2 separate regions of the Homo sapiens genome follow, and region 2 is linked to region 1. A link means that fine-mapping ties the variant in region 1 to the expression of a gene that starts in the linked region. Tissue or cell type: whole blood. Region 1 holds a variant in brackets; the other region holds the start of a gene. All regions are shown on one strand. Distances are between the middles of the regions.

What was found. PIP is the estimated chance that this variant, and not a neighbour inherited with it, causes the effect.
Region 2: RBM28 starts here. The variant in region 1 is fine-mapped to the expression of RBM28 in whole blood (TOPMed, PIP above 0.99).

The regions. Positions count from the first base shown.
Region 1 is chr7:128,305,864-128,312,230 of GRCh38, forward strand. RBM28 (RNA binding motif protein 28) reads right to left here. Exons shown (of 19, transcript NM_018077.3): 19 at 1-5,068. The coding sequence ends at 4,934. It also overlaps the pseudogene LOC100418961. Among named protein-coding and RNA genes, the nearest start is that of RBM28, 35 kb to the right of the region's middle. The variant T/C (reference allele first, on the strand shown) is at 3,661.
Region 2 is chr7:128,340,757-128,347,123 of GRCh38, forward strand. It overlaps RBM28 (RNA binding motif protein 28), which reads right to left and starts at 3,152. Exons shown (of 19, transcript NM_018077.3): 1 at 2,920-3,152. The coding sequence starts at 3,037. It also overlaps the pseudogene RNU7-27P. RefSeq lists an enhancer at 3,093-3,292.

The DNA.
Region 1 (6,367 bases):
CTATGAGAGGAATAAAACTGGACAGGAAAGAAAGAGAAAATACATAAAACAAGGACAGGTTGTTCGGCATCTCTTCAGGAGATGACTGTCTGGTACATCCTTTACCACCATTATCCTCAATCACCAATCACTAAGCATTGCCATGTACCAGGCCCAGGGGCTGGGACTATGGGAGCTAGTTCTTATAGTGGCTCATGATCTACTTGGGAAGGCAAGACCTAAAGAAATGACAAGTAAGCCACAATGGCATATGCTTTGTCGAATGAGAGGGTACCAATCAGCGAGTGTGCCGGGGACTTAGAGGAAGGGGTCACAATGCCCTGGGATGGCTGAGGTCCCCACGGAGATGTTGGGCCTTGAGCCAGAACTTGAGTGCTGGATAACACTTGAGTGGAAAGGAGGGGCACAGAGACTGTCCAGATTGGAATGGACAAGGCATAGCAGAAAGTACGGTGGTACACTCAAGGCACTGTGAACAGCAGTTTATTATTATTTTTTCCTTCATGCTGTCTTTTGGGGTCCTTAGGAAATGACTCTGTTGTCCTTCACAAGCCCAGCTAGGCCCTGGAACAAATGGCCTTTAGAGAGTTCAACAGTATGAAACTCCTACTACGAGTAAATCAATGTTAGGTGTTGTGGGGTATGTGGAAAAGTGAAAAAATAATAGTCCCTGCCTTAAAGGACAAGAAATGATTTTCCCTTTATCAAATGTCCAGGGAAGGAAACTGTGGGATGACACTGTGGCAGTGAAGTCTCACATCTGATAAAAGGCAGTGGGCTCTGGGCAGCATGGACAAGTTTAAGAAACACTGGATTTGCCATCTATCAAGATGCTCCATTTAGGGGTGGTCCAAAAGGTCTTTCAGTAACTCAGCAGTTCTCTTCTCAGAATTAGTTCCCAGTCTGTGCCTTCCAATCTTCCCAGTATATTCCTTTACCAGCACAAAAACTCATGTACAGCCAATGACCAGTTCAGAATAGATGCCAAAGTAATCAGACTATACCAGTAGCTCACCCCATGTCTGGTCACCAAGTAAGCCATCACAGACTCTGCAAATAATCCTGGAAAGGAAGAGGTACCAGGACAAGAAGGAAAGAACTAAAACAAGGATGTGAATAACTTCTAAACTGGTCAGCCTTGGACAAAAGGAAATCTGGAAATCTCGACTTGGCCTGAGAGAAACCTCATCCTGGCCCTTAAAGTGCCAATTAAGGCTGAGTTGAAAAGGAGCTGGGCATCATCAAACTGCAAACAAACTTAGCTTAGGCACCCACAGTGTGATGATGTGTTTATTTCCATGAAGGAGCAGTCTATGGAGAAGTGCAGGAACTTTCAAAGTTGCATGGGCAGAGCTGCTTCTTATATGACAGAATTGGCAGCTGCCTGTCACTTCACAGTGGGTCACATGAATATGAAGCAGAGAACTGGCTGTGTGCGTCAGCAGGGGAGCTTAAGACTGCAGATTCTGGGGAATCAGCACTCACTGTGACACATGTGATCCTCTGTCTCCTCAGACAACTGAAGGATGATGAGAAGGGGATCTCTGGAGCCTTGACCTTCTGGGCCCCGAATTTCTAGCTAGAAAACCTCTTTTCAAGACAAAAACATACCAAAGTACATTTTGAAGTATTTCGAAGAATGAATCACATGCCCTAACTTTATAATAGAGGAAGGCACAGATCTCATTTTTGTGACAGGTGAAACATAATCCTTGCCACAGGTTAACTCCAGAAGAAGGAACTGTACAGCTGAACAGAGCAGATTCTTAGAAACTACAAACTAACCAACAAACAAACAAATAAGGCAAAGAACAGCTGCACATCATCTTAAGATTCCTTATTTAAAGGTTGTATCTCTAAGCCAGGCTATTATATAATCAAGCAGGAAAATACTACTAAAACTTGATAGTTTTGACTGGTGGCCTTGTCTTGGATGTTAAGAAAAAATTTGCTGTTGTTTTTCAAAATAATAGAGATGGGGGTCTCACTATGTTGGCCAGGTCGGTCTCAAACTCCTGACCTCAAGCAATCCTCCCACCTCCCGAAGTGCTGCAATCATAGGTATGAGACTCTGTGCCCCACCTGTTGTTTTTTAACCAAGCAATCTGCAACTCAACTTTCATGTTAATTCAGAAAACTCCATTTCCTGACACATCAGGCCCTGAAGTGAAGGAGAAGTGAGCACAACTCTCACTGCACTAAAATTCCCAAGGCAAGGAGTCAATGGAGCTGACCAAATAGCCCATGGTAAGGTGTTCCAAAGGAAGACACCATATATAGAATTTGACTATTAAGAAAGGGAAGATTCAACCTCATATAAAGAACTCTTTAAAGAACTGTACAACAGCTCTCCAAGCAAGTGAATGAGGTTTTAACATACTGTTAAGTTGTTAAAAGAAATATTTGGATCTAAGAGAATCTGACAATGTTATCTGAATGAACACCAATTTTGATCTATCCTAAGTGTTAAGATATATTTTTGAATGTTAAAGATATTCGTGTACTAGGGAAAAAAGAGTGGTGAGCAGACGGAGAGATGGCCAAGGAAAAACAGATCACCTGACTGGCAGGTTATAGCTATTGTGACACTCTTAATAAAGTCCCTTACTTCCTCCACACTGTACAGACCAGGCTGAGAAAGACATGTTGCCAGGCTACCGTAAGAACATTTGACAGCCCAAGTCATGTCTCGAGGTGAACTTGGAGATAAATCACCTGTCCTTTCGATCTCTCCAAAAGGTCTAAATATTTCCATGGCCTCTCCTTCATCCATTTCTAAACCAAAGGCATTTCAGAGCATTCATGGGTTCCCCAAGATATTGCGATGAAATAACCATGTCTCAACCAGGCTCATGCCTGTAATCCCAGCACTTCAGGAGGCTGAGGTGGGCAGATCACAAGGTCAGGAGTTTGAGATCAGCCTGGCCAACATGGTGAAAACCCGTCTCTACTAAAAATACAAAAATTAGCCGGGCGTGGTGGCAGCACCTGTAATCCCCGCTACTCGGGAGGCTGAGGCAGGAGAATCGCTTGAACCCAGGAGGCGGAGGTTGCAGTGAGCCAAGATCATGCCATTGCACTCCAGCCTGGGCAACAGAGCAAGACTGTCTCAAAAAAAAAAAAAAAAAAGAAATAACCATATCTCTAGCTCAGCAATGGTTCTGTCAAAGCATTATTTGTAACACTCAACTAGACTAAGCAATCAAGAATTTTGGGCCACGTTCTCAACTTTTTCTCTTGCCTACTGAATACTGTTTCTTCCTTTCCTACCTTATTTTTTTCATTCAACAAATATTTATTCAATACTTACTACGTGCCTGGGTCAGTACTAGGTGCTGTGTCTACAGGAGTGAACAAGAGGGATAAAGTCCCTCTCACAAAGCATACATTCTAACTGGAGAGACAAACAATTTCAGATAGAGATTAGTGCTAGAAAGAGACAAATGATTTCAGATAGAGATTAGTGCTAGAAAGAAACAGGGAAGCAGGCCAGGCGTGGTGGCTCACGCCTGTAATACCAGGACTTTGGGAGGTCGAGGTGGGCGGATCACCTGAGGTCAGGAGTTCAAGACCAGCCTAGTCAACATGGTGAAACCCCATCTCTACTAAAAATACAAAATTTAGCCAAGAATGGTGGCGTGCACCTGTAGTCCCAGCTAC[T/C]TGGGAGGGTGAGGCGGGAAAGTCGCTTGAACCCGGGAGGTGGAGGTTGCAATGAGCTGAGACAGCGCCATTGCACTCCAGCCTGGGCGACAGAGTGAGACTCCATCTCAAAAAAAAAAAAAAAAGAAGAAGAAACAGGGAAGCAGATTTCAGTAAGGGGGCAAGATAGAGGGGAGGGGAAGAAAAGCCCTACTTTAGATAGTCTGGGAAGAGCTCCAGGAGGAGGCGACAACTAGTGGAGATCTGAGTGACAAGTAAAAGATGCAAGGGAAAAACTCTCCAGGCAAAGGGAACGGATACAAAGGCTCTGAGGTGGTCAAGAGTCAAGAGATGGAAGGAAGGCCTGTGTAGCCAAAAGTGAATGAAGAAGAGAGTGGATAAAGACAAGCAGAGGTGATAGGGCTGAAGAGCCCAGGGAATCAAATGTTATAGGAAGACAAGATTTCAATCAAAGTGAGATGTCAAACCCCTGGAGTTTTTCAGTAGGTGTGAAGCCATCTTAAGGGGCAGACTTAATGAGGATCAAGTGTCCTCATTAAGGAGGACTTAGAGAGCTAGTGGATACGATGAAAAGGGAGGTGCTCTATGAGAGAAATGCAGGTCATCGCTAACCAGGCTAGTGTCTTTAGGCCACTGCAGGCCAATTCAACTGGAAATCCCCTCATCTGACAAACACATAAGTGCTGCTCTCTGTCAGGCCCCACCTCCCCCCATTCTTTTCCAAGTGTCTCCGCCTGCAGCGATTAGGTTAGAAAGCATTTCTCTCTGCTCTCGCTTAGACAGTTCCTGCAGTGTGTAAGACTACAGAGCTGAATTAGGAATGTCAAAGAATGTTCATACATAATAAAGGAGTCACACATATTAGAAATGACGTTGTTACTAAAAAGCCACACAATATCTCATTTAGAGAATATGCTTAACAAAATATACATCTTAAAAATTCAGCACTCCAGAATGCTTTTTCAGGTGTTTCCATTTGAGAAATAAAGAATAAAAATTGGTAATAATTATAGACACAACTTCATACAATAATCTGGATAATATGCAAGAAGCATCATGTTGACTTTCAGATATTTCTCTTTGTGGCTAACGAACCACACATCAAAGGATGGACCAAAGTTCAGATGTACACAGTCCAGGGCACCTCCGAGCACAGTGGCAGTGCCCTTGGGGATTTTCTTTCCCTCAGTGAGAGACACGGGGGATGGGGAGGAGCCCAGGAGTGTCACCAGAAAGTACACAACCCAGCTTCTTACCCAGCCTGCTGCCATCATCAACTATCAAACCATTTGCTCCTCTTTGCAAGAGGTGCTCCTTTAGAAGGTCCCAATAATTTCTGCTTATATTGTTCGACCAGCTGGTTGAAGCGGGTTTCCGTCTTATTTCCCTTAGCTTTTTTCCTAGATACCTACAAATGAAAGGATTAGAAACATAATATAATCAATTTCAAAGACTATATATCACCTTACCCTCAGGCCACCCAAGAGAGAAAGTAAGTGGGACAGAGATCATATCTACCAGAAAGGGGTAGGTTTCTAGAGAGAGACTCTTAGAGAGAAAGGCTCAAACAGAATCATCCACTGGTAAGAAATTAGACCAAGAGTGAGTGCACAGGGAGCAGGGCCTGACTAACCTCCCTGTCTGCTGGGGACTCAGGGGCCTCTCTTACTCTAGCTCCCAAAGGCTCACTTTAGCCTCAAAGCAGATGAGTCAGCACAGAGTCCGGCCATTCTTGCTTGCCTGTTCCCTCCCCAAGAACACTGCTCATGGGATTTCAGAGATCTCTATACTATAGTACGGTATACGTCAGAAACTTCCCAGACACAGATTTCTTGAGTAGGATGGGAAGCTAATGCTGCTTTTACCCTTAAAGGAAAGAGACTAGGGAAGGGGAGAAGCAAGCTTGACTTCAAGTGTTCAAGAATGTAGGACCACCGTTTTCTACTAAAAGGAACTAAGGCTCCTTGGGAAAATGGCTAATGTCAGGACTGGGGAAGAGGTACCTGAGCTGAGCCTGGGACATCCTGCACTAGAAAGCAAGGATACTACCAGACAAATACGCCACATCAGAAAGACTCAGAAGCCAACCTGCAGGGGCTTCTGCCAGCCTTACACAGAGTAAGAATAATGACAGTATTTGAAACACATCAAGCATATGAAAACTCAGGATTTCATAATACTAAAAAATGAGCCAGTATGGCAACAGCTCATTACTCTGAAAACTAACAGAGAGAGAGAAAAAAAAAATCAAGCATTTATCCTGTCTTTCCTACATAAATGATATTTTGTGGTAAGCAAATAATTGACAAAGGAAGATTTTTCTTTCTAGGGTTCTAATTAAAAATGCAAAAGGATAGAAGTTTAAATAATCAGCATTCTGTAACCCATAATGAAATAATGGATCTGGTAACACTCATCAATAACTGCTAAGGCCATTACATGAAAGGCTAATTGGGAACTTCATCAATGGAGGGATAAGGCAGATAATCCTCAAATCTACTGATCAATCCCAGAATCACTAAAAATGGGCAACCAGGTAGTATGTGCCTCAGGCGATATAAGGAAACACACACACCACCTATGAAATACTCTCTTCAAGAAAACTGAACTTGAGGCCAAGCACGGTGGCTCACACCTGTAATCCCAGCACTTTGGGAGGCCGAGGCAGGCGAATCACCTGAGGTCAAGAGTTCAAGGCCAGCCTGGT
Region 2 (6,367 bases), 35 kb after region 1:
AATTAAACCTTTCCAAAGCAGCTGTGCATTCTTGTCTCATTTTATCTTTAGAACACCTCAAAATAGGTAAAGCAAATATTATCACCCCTTCTTTCCAAGTAAGTAATTTGAGATGGAAGACAGTAAGTGAATTGGTTAATGTCACACAGGGTGTTAGTAGCTGAATTAACTCCTCCTCACCAGCCCCCATGTTCTTCCATAGGACTCCACAAAGAATAATATTAGGACCAAGGAGATGAAAACTACAAATATCAACTGTAACCCACCTTTGCCCTTTTTGGTTTAACATTTTGTATAGTAAAATTTTAAATAATTTATTGCATCAAAAAGGAAAAGGACAGATCAAGAAGTCTGCCTTTACCTGAAAAGGACACATAGTTCATATGCTCTGCTTCTCTTTCCACTGCATTTGAATCTCCTTCAGGGTATAAGCCCTTTGACACAGGACACTGATCTACATAAACTGGTTAAAGCAACATAACATCAATTTTTCTCTTCTCTTGAACTCCTTATCATAAAAGCTGCCCACTCACCTTTCAGAAAATGAGCACAAGAAAATTCATAGCCCTTCATGATCAGTACAACCAAAAGTAAAGCAGCTGAAATGTAAAAGAGTTTGACACCCAAATGAAAGGACATACAGTAAATACCACACATTTTACATGTCTGCATAAAGCATGCTCACATACATTTAGAGTCCCTGACAACCCTGTGAAATTATTCCCATCTTAAAGAGGTGAAGTGACATGCACTGCTATTGAGGAAGACTTCATTCCACATACCCTCCCTCCCGTTTCACTGAGTGCAGCACTCTTTCCAGTACATATCAGCTGTCTGGATAGGAAAGTGCATAGTTTTTTAAAAGGAAGTAAGAGATTTTTAAGGATTTAGACCAAGTACACAAGGTGTAAGGTAAGATTGCATGTAGCCTATATTCTGAGGACTCAAAGGAGAACTCCCATTCAATGGCCTATTCTTCCCTGGAATACAACCACCTGGGTACGGAATGCTACTTACACTGGAACCCAGTACATACATATATTCTTTATTTAAAACTTAAAAGTTTTACAAATACTTATCCTTTACCATATATGGACGTACTCCTATACTATTTAATTTTTTAAGAACTCTAGGCCAGGCGTGGTGGCACATGCCTGTAATCCCAGTGCTTTGGGAGGCCAAGGCAGGAGGATCATTTGAAACCAGCCTGGACAACGTAGTGAGACCCTGTCTCTACAAAAAATATTCAAAAATTGGCCAGGCATGGTGAAGCACGTCTGTAGTCATAGCTACTTGGGAGGCTGAAGTAGGAGGATTGCTTGAGCCCAGGAGTTTAAGGTTACATTGAGCTGTGATCGCACCACTGCACTCCAACTGTCAACAGGGTTGACAGAGCAAGACCCTGTTTCTAAAACACAACAAAACAAACTCTAGTCATGACCCACTCAAGACCCACTAATAGGTAATAATCTGCAGTTTAATAAACATTACTGTACAGGACTTTCGGTCCCTATTTTAAGTACATAAGCTTTTGTCCTATTCTCCAACAGTCTATTGGCAACACACCAGCCAGAGAGAGAATCTTTCAAAACGAATGCCAGATCACACTTACTGCTCTCTGCTTAAAATCAGTGGCTTCCTATCTCTGAGTAAAAGCCAAAGTCCTTGCAATGGTCTATAACATCCTACATGAGGCGGGCGGATCACCTGAGGTCTCGAGTTCCAGACAACCCTGGCCAACATAGCGAAACCCCGTCTCTACTAAAAATACAAAAATTAGCCAGGTGTAGTGACACTCGCCTGTAATCCCAGCTACTTGGGAGGCTGAGGCAGGAGAATGGGTTGAACCAGGAGGCAGAGGTTGCAGTGAGCGGAGATCGTGGCACTGCACTCCCGCCTGGGCGACAGAGCAAGACGCAGTCTTTAAAAAAAAAAAAAAATCTTACATGATCTGCTACTCTAGATCTCATCTCCTAATTCTCTTCCCTTTACTCACTTCAATCCAGTCACCCTGTCCTCCTTACTACTCCTCCAATATACCAAAAACACCTCTGTTTCAGTACCTTTGAGCTTGCTGTTTTCTCTTCCTGAATTGTTCTTCCTCCGGAGAGGCATGTGTTCACTCTCTCACCTCAGTCCGTCCTTCTCTGGCCACCCTATCTATATTGCCACTCTTCACCCCCTCTCCCCACTATACACATGCACATAGACTTCCTAACCCCTTTCCCTGGCTTATTTTTCTCCTTAGCATTTGACATCATTTTCACGGTTGGCTTGTTTATTGGCTCGTTTATTGGCTCTCTTCCCCACCTTGAAGACATAAAATCAAAGATTTTTTTGGTTTGGTGTTGTGCACTGCTGCATCCCCAGGACCTACAACACTTCCTGGCACACAGTAGGTATTAAGTATTTGCTGAATAAATGAATGAACAAGTGGATAGCATCCTGGCTAAGATGTCCAGGTCTGAGGATCAAATCGGGGGTCCACTACTTAACAGCCGTACAAACTTAAAGTTACTAAATTCCCCTAAATCCCGGATTCCTGTCTGTAAAATGACATTAAGACTCTCCATCCGGTAAGATTGCTGAGAAAATTAAATGAGATAACCTGTATCAAACTGATCACTGTACCTGCCAATCAGGTGACTCTCAATAAGTCTTACTGATGCTCTAGTTAACTATTTTCATTTTTAGCGCGCATAATCAACAGAAAGCGCTATAGAAACGTAAGGGAATGCTTTGCCCTTCATAAACTGACTCCTATGAACGCATCTAAAGCAGAATCAGTTTGGAAAAGAAACTCAGTTCCCTGTCCCTTCTCTTCGGGGAGGGTAAAGAATGATACGGCTCCCTGAAGTTTGGGAAGGTGCCCTCGATCGCAGGAAACCCCAGCCCTATCCTCGACCGCCCCGCCCCTACCTTTTTCAGTCACCACGAAGCACTGCTTCACCGGCCCCACCTGACTGAACAGTTCCTCCAGCTGCTCACTGCGGGCCGAGGGCGGGAGGCGGCCCACAAATAAGGTCAGGCCGGCCATGAGACCGGGAAACCCAAAGCGCGTGAGGACGCGAGCAAACTAGGCCGGCGCACGCGAGCCGAAACGCTGGCTTTGGTAGGACAACCAAGCTCACACGCCGAGAGATTCCGGAAGTGCTCGTTGCCCAAAAGAGACCGGAGGAAAACATGGTCGGGAGGGGGATAAAAGGTTCCGGAATGAAAAAATAATGGCGCCCCGGGGCGTAGCTTCTGGAGCGGGGCTCCGCCCCCTGCCCTAGCATCGCCCTCGCCACTTTTGTGTAAACTTGGCATCAATAATTTCTACCCTAGTGTTACAGCTTTTTTAGAATTTGCCTAGCAGGCTTTCTGGTTTTTGCCGGAAGGCCTCCAAAAAGTAATTTTTTTTCTTAATATACAAAATAAAAATAAATAATTTCTACCCTGTTTAAAAATCTCACCTCCAGATCCTCCCCAAAGTTAGCAGGACAGGCAGAAGAAGTCGTTTTTGCCCCGGGCGTAACTCAGGATCTGATATACTGTGGGTGTTTGATATTTTCTGAAGTGCCTCCACAAATTCCCAGATTACGTGCATAAAACACAACCGGAACACTAACACGTAGACATAGATATATCATATACATCATTCGGACGATTCTCATTTTCGGAGAACACCAGCTGTCTGTCACCTCAGCCTCACAAACAAATTGTAGCTACTAAAATACACATAGACACAGATAGTACACAATTATTATTTCAATAAATATATACTGAGCTCTAACTATGAGCCAAGCATTAGGGATAAAACTGGTGAGCAAAGAAATGACAGGGTCCCTGCCCTCATAGAGATTACAGTCTAATGGTGGAAACAGATTTTTTTTTTTGACAGGGCCTCACTTTATCAACCAGGCCGGAGTGCACTGGCACGATCTCGGCTTACTGCAGCCTCGACCTCCCAGGTTCAAGCAGTCCTCCTGCCTCAGCCTCCTGAGTAGCTGGAACTACAGGTGCACCACCACACCCGGCTAATTTTTGTATTTTTTGCAGAGACAGGGTTTCACCATGTTGCCCAGGCTGGTCTCAAACTCCTGAGCTCAATTAGCCCCCCTTAGCCTCCTAAAGTGCTAGGATTATAGGTGTGAACCACCACACCTGGCTGGGAAGACTATTAGTCCAAAAATTCTTACAAATAAATCACAGCACACACACTGCAGGACCACATCAAACACACTCAAAGCAAACATAACATCCAACTTATACACAGAGACCTAGAACCCATGTCCTCCTAGAAACAGAAGATCTTTGTCTCAAGTCAGCTCATCAGACAGACCCAAAGCTGAGAGCTCTTAATTGGCTAGGAAATCTGGGTGCTCCTGGTTCTGGAACACAGAGAGTGTTTGCCATGCCACTGGGCTCAGGACCTGAATAGGTGCAAGAGAGCTACACCTTGCAGAACAACTAGCTCAAAAAAAAGTACCCAAGGCCATTTTTTAAATAATTTTTTTTTTAGCAGACTCTTGCTCTGTCACCCAACTTGGGGTGCAGTGGCACCATCATGGCTCACTGCAGCCTTGATCTCCTGGGCTCAAGCAATACTGCCACCTCAGCCTCCTGAGAAGCTAGGACCACAAGTGTGTACCACCATGCCTGGCCAATTTATTTATTTTTTTGTACAGACAGTTCTCCCTGTGTTGCCCAGGCTAGTCTTGAACTCCTGGGATAAACCAATCCTCCCACTACGGCCTCCCAAAGTGTTGGGATTATAGGCGTGAGCCACTGAGCCCAGCCAAATCATTACTTTTAAATGATAGTAACATGGCAGATAGAAAACTCAAAAACTTTACAGTTTTAGTACCTTTTATAAGGCACTATGGTGAAAATTAAGTTTCATGATCTCCTCAAGCCCCATTCACTTTCAATACATTTTGGATGGCTAGACGACTGGTTGATAGTGATGGGAGTGGAGATTAGGGGGACGCTAAACATCACATTTATGGAGCTCTAGTTCGAAGTAAGTAATCTATGCTTAAAATAAAACTTCACGATTATTTTTTAAAAATACAACTCACGGCCAGGAGCGGCCGTGATCCCAGCACTTTGGGAGGCCGAGGTGGGTGGATCACCAGATCAAGGGTTCGAGACCAGCCTGGCCAACATGGTGAAACCCCGTCTCTACTAAAAATACAAAAAGTAGCCGGGCATGGTGGCACATGCCTGTAATCCCAGCTACTCGGGAGGCTGAGGCAGGAGAATCGCTTGAACTCAGGAGGCAGAGGTTGCAGTGAGCCGAGATTGCACCACTGCACTCCAGCCTGGGCAACAAAGGAAGACTCCATCTCAAAAAAATATATAACTCACTTTGGGAGATCAAGATGGGTAGATCACTGGAACTCAGGAGTTCGAGACTTCTGAAAATAAAATACAAGTTTATTTTTCTTTTTTTCTGAGCAGAGTCTCGCTCTGTCACCCAGGCTGGAATGCAGTGGTGCGATCTCGGTTCACTGCAACCTACACCTCCTAGGTTCAAGCAATTCTCCTGCCTCAGCCTCCTGAGTAGATGAGATTACAGGCACCCACCACCATGCCTGGCTAATTTTTGTATTTTCAGTAAAGACAGAGTTTCACCAACTTGGCCAGGCTGGTCTTGAACTCCTGACCTCAAGTGATCAGCCGTCATCGGCCTCCCAAAGTGCTGGGATAACAGGCATGAGCCACCATACCCAGCCTAAACTTTATTTTTCAACATTAGCTCCATCAAGTTCAAAACACATTTGTAAGCAATGATACCAGCCACTTAGTCCATCTCTAAAGAACTTAAGGTCTTTGGAATTTAAGCATGTCAATGCAGTCTCTCTCTCTCTCTCTCTCTCTCTCTCTCTCTCTCTCTCTCTCTCTCTCTCTCTATATATATATATATATATATATATATATATATATATATATATATATATAATTGAAGAAAAATGTGAGCCCCTTAAAGATTTTTTAAGATTAGGAAACAAAACTAAGTCAGAAGGAGCCAAAATAGGACCTTAAGGTGGATGCCTAATGGTTTCCCATTAACACTCTTGAAAAATTGCCCTTGTTTGAGAGAGGAGTGAGCAAGAGCACTGTGATGGAGAAGGGCCCTCTCTGTTGAAGGTTTCCCCTAGGTATTTTTCTGCTAAAGGTTTGGCTAACTTTCTCAGAACCCTCTCACAATAAGCAGATGTTATCATTCTTTGGCCCTCCAGAAAGTCAGACAGAAAAAAAAAAAAATGCCTTGTAGGCCCGGTGTGGTGGCTCATGCCTGTAATCCCAGCACTTTGGGAGGCCAAGGCGGGCGGATCACCTGAGGTTGGGAGTTTGAGACCAGCCTCAGAAACATGATGAA